Linked DNA regions of Homo sapiens. The protein of the gene in region 1 purifies or fractionates together with the protein of each later gene. This does not show direct contact. Each region holds a gene or a part of one and is shown in the gene's direction. Other genes may lie near its edges. The genes, in order: MLPH and RAB10.

What was found.
Region 2: the proteins of MLPH (region 1) and RAB10 purify together in Homo sapiens (affinity purification with western blotting, with the first as the bait; one study listed by BioGRID). This does not show direct contact.

What each region holds. Positions count from the first base shown.
Region 1 is NC_000002.12:237,552,943-237,555,845, forward strand, and holds the end of MLPH (melanophilin), read left to right. Parts: intron 1-154; coding exon of another isoform or gene 155-181; exon of another isoform or gene 182-289; intron 290-623; coding exon 624-650; 3' UTR 651-2,380; downstream 2,381-2,903. UniProt on the Homo sapiens protein: Rab effector protein involved in melanosome transport. Serves as link between melanosome-bound RAB27A and the motor protein MYO5A.
Region 2 is NC_000002.12:26,107,003-26,110,833, forward strand, and holds part of RAB10 (ras-related protein Rab-10), read left to right. Parts: intron 1-2,765; coding exon 2,766-2,904; intron 2,905-3,831. UniProt on the Homo sapiens protein: The small GTPases Rab are key regulators of intracellular membrane trafficking, from the formation of transport vesicles to their fusion with membranes.

The sequences.
Region 1 (2,903 bases):
CACAACGAAAGCGCAGATTTATTGAAAAGAAAGTGCACTCCACAGAGTGGGAGCAGGCTAGAGCCAGTGGCTCAGGAGCCTGGTTACAGCATTTTCTGGAGTTTAAGTGCCCTCCAGAGTTTTCCCATTGGTTACTTGGTTATACTCTATGCAGATGAAGGAGTGGCCCCAACCAATGTGATCAGTCGCAGGAGGCAACCAATCAGAGGCTGAAGGGAAGTTACAAAGTTACACATGAAGACTTGGCCGATGACCAGTCTGGTTGGTTGCGGGAGGGGACCAATCCGAGGTACTTTCCATTTTCATCTGAGATGCAGTGGAAAGGGGGTATAGCAAAGGGAGTAGCTGCTGAACCTTTTGTTCCTCAGGCATGGAGAGGTGGGGTTTTCATTTTGATTCAGTTCTAGGAAGTCAGCACGAATTGGCCTTAGGTTCCCTGCCTCCAGACCCTATTCTCTTGCCTCACATGCATGTGTGCACAAACGTGTAATCTAAATTTGTGTCTACAGATGTGCACATCCATGTACACACCTGTGTATTTGTATGTGCATGCCCATGTGTGTCTGTGTTACATGCCTGTGTATGTGTGTGCTTATATGTGCATGTGTGTTTGTACTTTACAGAAACCTGTGGTGGCCCACCAGTCCTAACGGGACAGGACAGAGAGACAGAGCAGCCCTGCACTGTTTTCCCTCCACCACAGCCATCCTGTCCCTCATTGGCTCTGTGCTTTCCACTATACACAGTCACCGTCCCAATGAGAAACAAGAAGGAGCACCCTCCACATGGACTCCCACCTGCAAGTGGACAGCGACATTCAGTCCTGCACTGCTCACCTGGGTTTACTGATGACTCCTGGCTGCCCCACCATCCTCTCTGATCTGTGAGAAACAGCTAAGCTGCTGTGACTTCCCTTTAGGACAATGTTGTGTAAATCTTTGAAGGACACACCGAAGACCTTTATACTGTGATCTTTTACCCCTTTCACTCTTGGCTTTCTTATGTTGCTTTCATGAATGGAATGGAAAAAAGATGACTCAGTTAAGGCACCAGCCATATGTGTATTCTTGATGGTCTATATCGGGGTGTGAGCAGATGTTTGCGTATTTCTTGTGGGTGTGACTGGATATTAGACATCCGGACAAGTGACTGAACTAATGATCTGCTGAATAATGAAGGAGGAATAGACACCCCAGTCCCCACCCTACGTGCACCCGCTCTGCAAGTTCCCATGTGATCTGTAGACCAGGGGAAATTACACTGCGGTCAAGGGCAGAGCCTGCACATGACAGCAAGTGAGCATTTGATAGATGCTCAGATGCTAGTGCAGAGAGCCTGCTGGGAGACGAAGAGACAGCAGGCAGAGCTCCAGATGGGCAAGGAAGAGGCTTGGTTCTAGCCTGGCTCTGCCCCTCACTGCAGTGGATCCAGTGGGGCAGAGGACAGAGGGTCACAACCAATGAGGGATGTCTGCCAAGGATGGGGGTGCAGAGGCCACAGGAGTCAGCTTGCCACTCGCCCATTGGTTACATAGATGATCTCTCAGACAGGCTGGGACTCAGAGTTATTTCCTAGTATCGGTGTGCCCCATCCAGTTTTAAGTGGAGCCCTCCAAGACTCTCCAGAGCTGCCTTTGAACATCCTAACAGTAATCACATCTCACCCTCCCTGAGGTTCACTTTAGACAGGACCCAATGGCTGCACTGCCTTTGTCAGAGGGGGTGCTGAGAGGAGTGGCTTCTTTTAGAATCAAACAGTAGAGACAAGAGTCAAGCCTTGTGTCTTCAAGCATTGACCAAGTTAAGTGTTTCCTTCCCTCTCTCAATAAGACACTTCCAGGAGCTTTCCAATCTCTCACTTAAAACTAAGGTTTGAATCTCAAAGTGTTGCTGGGAGGCTGATACTCCTGCAACTTCAGGAGACCTGTGAGCACACATTAGCAGCTGTTTCTCTGACTCCTTGTGGCATCAGATAAAAACGTGGGAGTTTTTCCATATAATTCCCAGCCTTACTTATAAATTCTATTCTTTGAAAAAATTATTCAGGCTAGGTAAGGTGGCTCATACCTATAATCCCAGCCCTTTGAGAGGCCAAGGTGGGAGAATTGCTTGAGGCCAGGAGTTTGAGACCTCCTGGGCAACATAGTGAGATCCCATCTCTACAAAAAACAAAACAAAAAAATTACCCAAGCATGATGGTATATGCCTGTAGTCGTACCTACTTACTTAGGAGGCTGAGGCAGGAGGATCACTTGAGCCCTGGAGGTTGGGGCTGCAGTGAGCCATGATCGCATCACTATACTCGAGCCTGGGCAACAGAGTGAGACCTTGTCTCTTAAAAAAATTAATAATAAATAAATGAAAATAATTCTTCAGAGTTCCTTTCCTAGCAGATGGCTATTCTGGAGATGTGTAGTGGAAGCTGCATACAGGCAGGTCAGGGATCCCTGAGGCTAGTGTACCCCAACCAGTACAGCTGCTGGCTCTTTGTTTCCAGCTAAAGATTGACAGAAGTCAGTGGTTTCTCTATGACTCCAGAGGGAGATTAGAGACAAGCATTTAAAATATTTCTCCAAAGTTTTATCCTCCAACAGTCTTATTTATAAGGGGAAAAAGAAAAAATTTTAGGAAGCGTTGAATGCACAGATCTCCCAAAGATGCTTCTTACAAATGAGCTATGAGTGTGCAGCAAAATTGCACTCCCCAGATAATCCAGTATCCAACATATTGCAATATAGCACCCAGATCACCAAGGGATACCTTGCCTCACTGCAGATTATTGGGGTGAAACACAATTTGACAGGTGTAGCTCCCAGCTCTCAGGGATCAAACCAACCATGCATTACAGTGTTGCAGTTTCACTGATTTTATGTCAAGCCATTGTTTCTGTAAGTTCCAAGGATT
Region 2 (3,831 bases), about 210 Mb from region 1:
TGGGAAGCTGAGGCGGGCAGATCATCTGAGGCCAGGAGTTCAAGACCAGCCTGGCCAACATGGCGAAAACCCATCTCTACTAAAAATATAAAAATTAGCTGCATGTGGTGGCACGTGCCTGTAATCTCAGCTATTCCAGAGGCTGAGGCAGGAGAATCTCTTGAACCTGGGAGGCGGAGGTTGCAGTGAGCCAAGATCGTGCCACTACACTCCAGCCTGGGCAACAGAGCGACACCCTGTTTCAAAAAAAAAAAAAAAAAAAAGACTAGGTGAAGAATTCTTAGACATAACACTAAACACATGATCTGTAAAAGAAAAAAAAATCAGTAAATTAATTAGACTTTCACAAAATTAAAAGCTTCCTCTCTACAAAATACCCTGTCAAGGGAATGAAAAGACTAGCTACAGACTTGGAGAAAATATTTACAAGCCAGTGTATCTGACAAAGGACTTCTGTATAAAAAGAACTTTCAAAAGTCAGCAGTAAAAAGACAAAAAAACTGACAATCCAGGCCAGCCACGGTGGCTCACGCCTGTAATCCCAGCACTTTGGGAGGCTGAGGCGGGCTGATCACCTGAGGTCAGGAGTTTGAGACGAGCCTGGCCAACATGGTGAAACCCCATTTCTACTAAAAATACAACCGTTGGCTGGGCGTGGTGGTGGGCGCCTGTGATCCCAGCTACTTGGGAGGCTGAGGCAGGAGAATCACTTGAACCCAGGAGGCAGAGGTTGCAGTGAGCCGAGACTGTGCCATTGCACTCCAGCCTGGGCGGCAAGATCGAAACTCTATCTCAAAAAAAAAACCCCAAAAACAAAAAACTAACAATCCAATTAGAAAATGGGCAAAAAAAAAAACCAGACATTTCACCAAAGAGGACATGTGGATGGCAAATAAACACATGAAAAAATGTTCACCATCTTAGCCACAGGGAAATACAGATTAATGTGATGATGAAATATTACTATGTGCCCTCTTAGAACTACAGAAATAAAAAAGTGACAGCATCAAATGCTGGTGAGGATGCAGAGAAACTGGATCTTTTATATGTTGCTAGTGCAAATGTCAAGTGATAGAGCCACTCTGGAAAAAGTTGGCCAGTTTCTTACCGTTATACACTTACCATATTACCCATAAATAACATTCCTGGGCATTTATTTCAAAGAAATGAAAAATTATGTCCACATAGAAACCTGTAAATGAATATTCTTCGAACTTTGTTATAGCCAAAAACTGGAAACAACCCTGAATGTCCTTCCATGGGTGAATAATTAAGCAAATTGTGATACAGACATACCATAGAATGCTACCCAGCAATGAAATGGGACAGACCAGGATTATGTGCAAAACTTGAGAGGACTTCAAGAGCATTATGGTGAAAGAAGTGTTAAATGCCGATTTCAAAAGGTAGCATACTACATGATTCCACTTACGTAACATTCTGGAAATGAAAAAAATATAAACATAGAAAACAGATTATTGATCAGAGTTTAGGGACTATGGGGAGTAAAGAGGTGATGTAATAGTTCTTTGTCTTGTGGTAGTTACACAAATCTGTACATGTAATAAATTGTAGAGAACTATATATACACACATACACAAATAAGTGCATGTAAAAAAAAAAAACCCTGAAATCTTAATAAGGTCTGTAGATTGTATCCAATGTCCATTTTCTGGTTTTGCTATTATGCTGCAGTAATATAAGATGTTATCATTAGGAAAAGCTGGGTGAAAGGTACCCAGGACCTCTCTGCACAGTTTTGTAACTTCCTGTAAGGCTGTAATTATTTCAAAATAAAAGTTTTAAAAATATTAACTCGAAAGAGGAGCAGGGATAGTTGGAGAGATACAGGGTTGAGATTGGGGTCTTTTGCTTTATATTTATTTATTTATTTATTTATTTATTTATTTATTTATTTATTTATTTTGAGACGGAGTCTCGCTCTGTCACCCAAGCTGGAGTGTAGTGGCACCATCTTGGCTCACTGCAACCTGTGCCTCCTGTGTTCAAGCAGTTCTCTTACCTCAGCCTCCCGAGCAGGTGGGATTACAGGCACGTGCCACCATGCCGGGCTAATTTTTGTATTTTTAGTAGAGATGGGGTTTCACCATGTTGGCCAAGTGTCTTGAACTCCTGACCTTAAGTGATCTACACGCCTCAGCCTCCCGAAGGGCTGGGATTACAAGTGTGAGCCACTGCGCCCGACCTTATTTTTGCTTTTTTAAAAAAGATACTAAAACATGTTTGTAAGCTGATGAGATGATCCATAAAAGAGCAAAATGATGATACAAATGAGAGGGCATAGTTACAGGAGCAAAATACATCTTACACCTTTGGCTTTAAGCATTAAATAATGGAAAATACTACTATTTACATTTCTGTCTTATTATTTATAAGTGAGGTTATCTTTACAACTTTTGGTTAATGATTCTAAATGTAAATATGACTGTACTATGGTATAGTTCTCTAATGTTCTAAAAATCCTACCTGCTTTTGTGTTACATTATGGAACTAAATTATTAAATAAAATGAAATTTTAAGAGTTTCTATGGTGTTTGCTAGTGCTTATTCAATAAACTTGAGTTTTATGTGTCACTTCCTACTGTTTTCCCTTTCAGATTTTCATCCAGTATGGGTAGGTTATTAATTTCCTTCAACTAAAAAGTTTTTATATATACTTAGGAAAAACTATTCTTGTTTTGTCCTTTATGTGAAATGTAGTAATATCAAAATGCTTAATAGAAATTATTGGCTGTTTATTTCAGGGATACAGCAGGCCAGGAGCGATTTCACACCATCACAACCTCCTACTACAGAGGCGCAATGGGTATCATGCTAGTATATGACATCACCAATGGTAAAAGTTTTGAAAACATCAGCAAATGGCTTAGAAACATAGATGAGGTAAGACCTAGAACTTGTATAAACCCTTCATGAACACACATTTGTGTGCTTGGTTAGGAAGAATAAATATTCCAACTGATCTTCAGGATATAATGTACTGTTGAAGTCATTATTATTGAAGTATTTCTATTTTCTAAAAGTTAATGTTGGCCGGGCATGGTGGCTCATGCCTGTAATCCCAGCACTTTGGGAGGCTGAGGTGGGAGGATCACCTGAGGTCAGGAGCTAAAGACCAGCCTGGCCAACATGGTGAAACCCCATCACTACTAAAAATTATAAAAATCAGCTGGGTGTGGTGATGTGCACCTGTCGTCCCAGCTACTCAAGAGTCCAAGGCAGGAGAATCTCTTGAACCTGGGAGGTAGAGGTTGCAATGAGCCAAGATTGCGCCACTGCACTCCAGCCTGGGCAACAGAGCAAGACTCCGTCTCCAAAAAAAAAAAAAAAAAAGTTAATGTTGTTATTTGCTAATTTTTTCTTAAGTTTTTGGACAGTCTATCTAGAGCCCCATTCAAGACAATTAGTAAATTACTCCAAAACTCTGTATAGCCATCTTACAAGATGACCCCAAATAGAAGCTACCAGTGATTTTACAATGATTTTCTGGAAATGAATTTTTTCTTAATAAATTTTTATTGAATGAATGAAATGTCCGGTAGTAATTTTTTAAAACTTTATTTTTCATGTTATAGAAATATAATATTGCTTCTAGGCATTTTGAAATATATGGAATACTAATATAGTAAAAACCTAACTAAGAAAATAGTTCCATTGCATGTGAAAATGTTGTTTTTTTTTCTGTATTTTGGGTTTTTTTGAGATAGAGTCTCACTTCATCACCCAGGCTGGAGTGCAGTGGCACAATCTTGGCTCACTGCAATCTCTGCTTTCTGGGTTCAAGTGATTCTAGTGTCTTAGTGTCTTGAG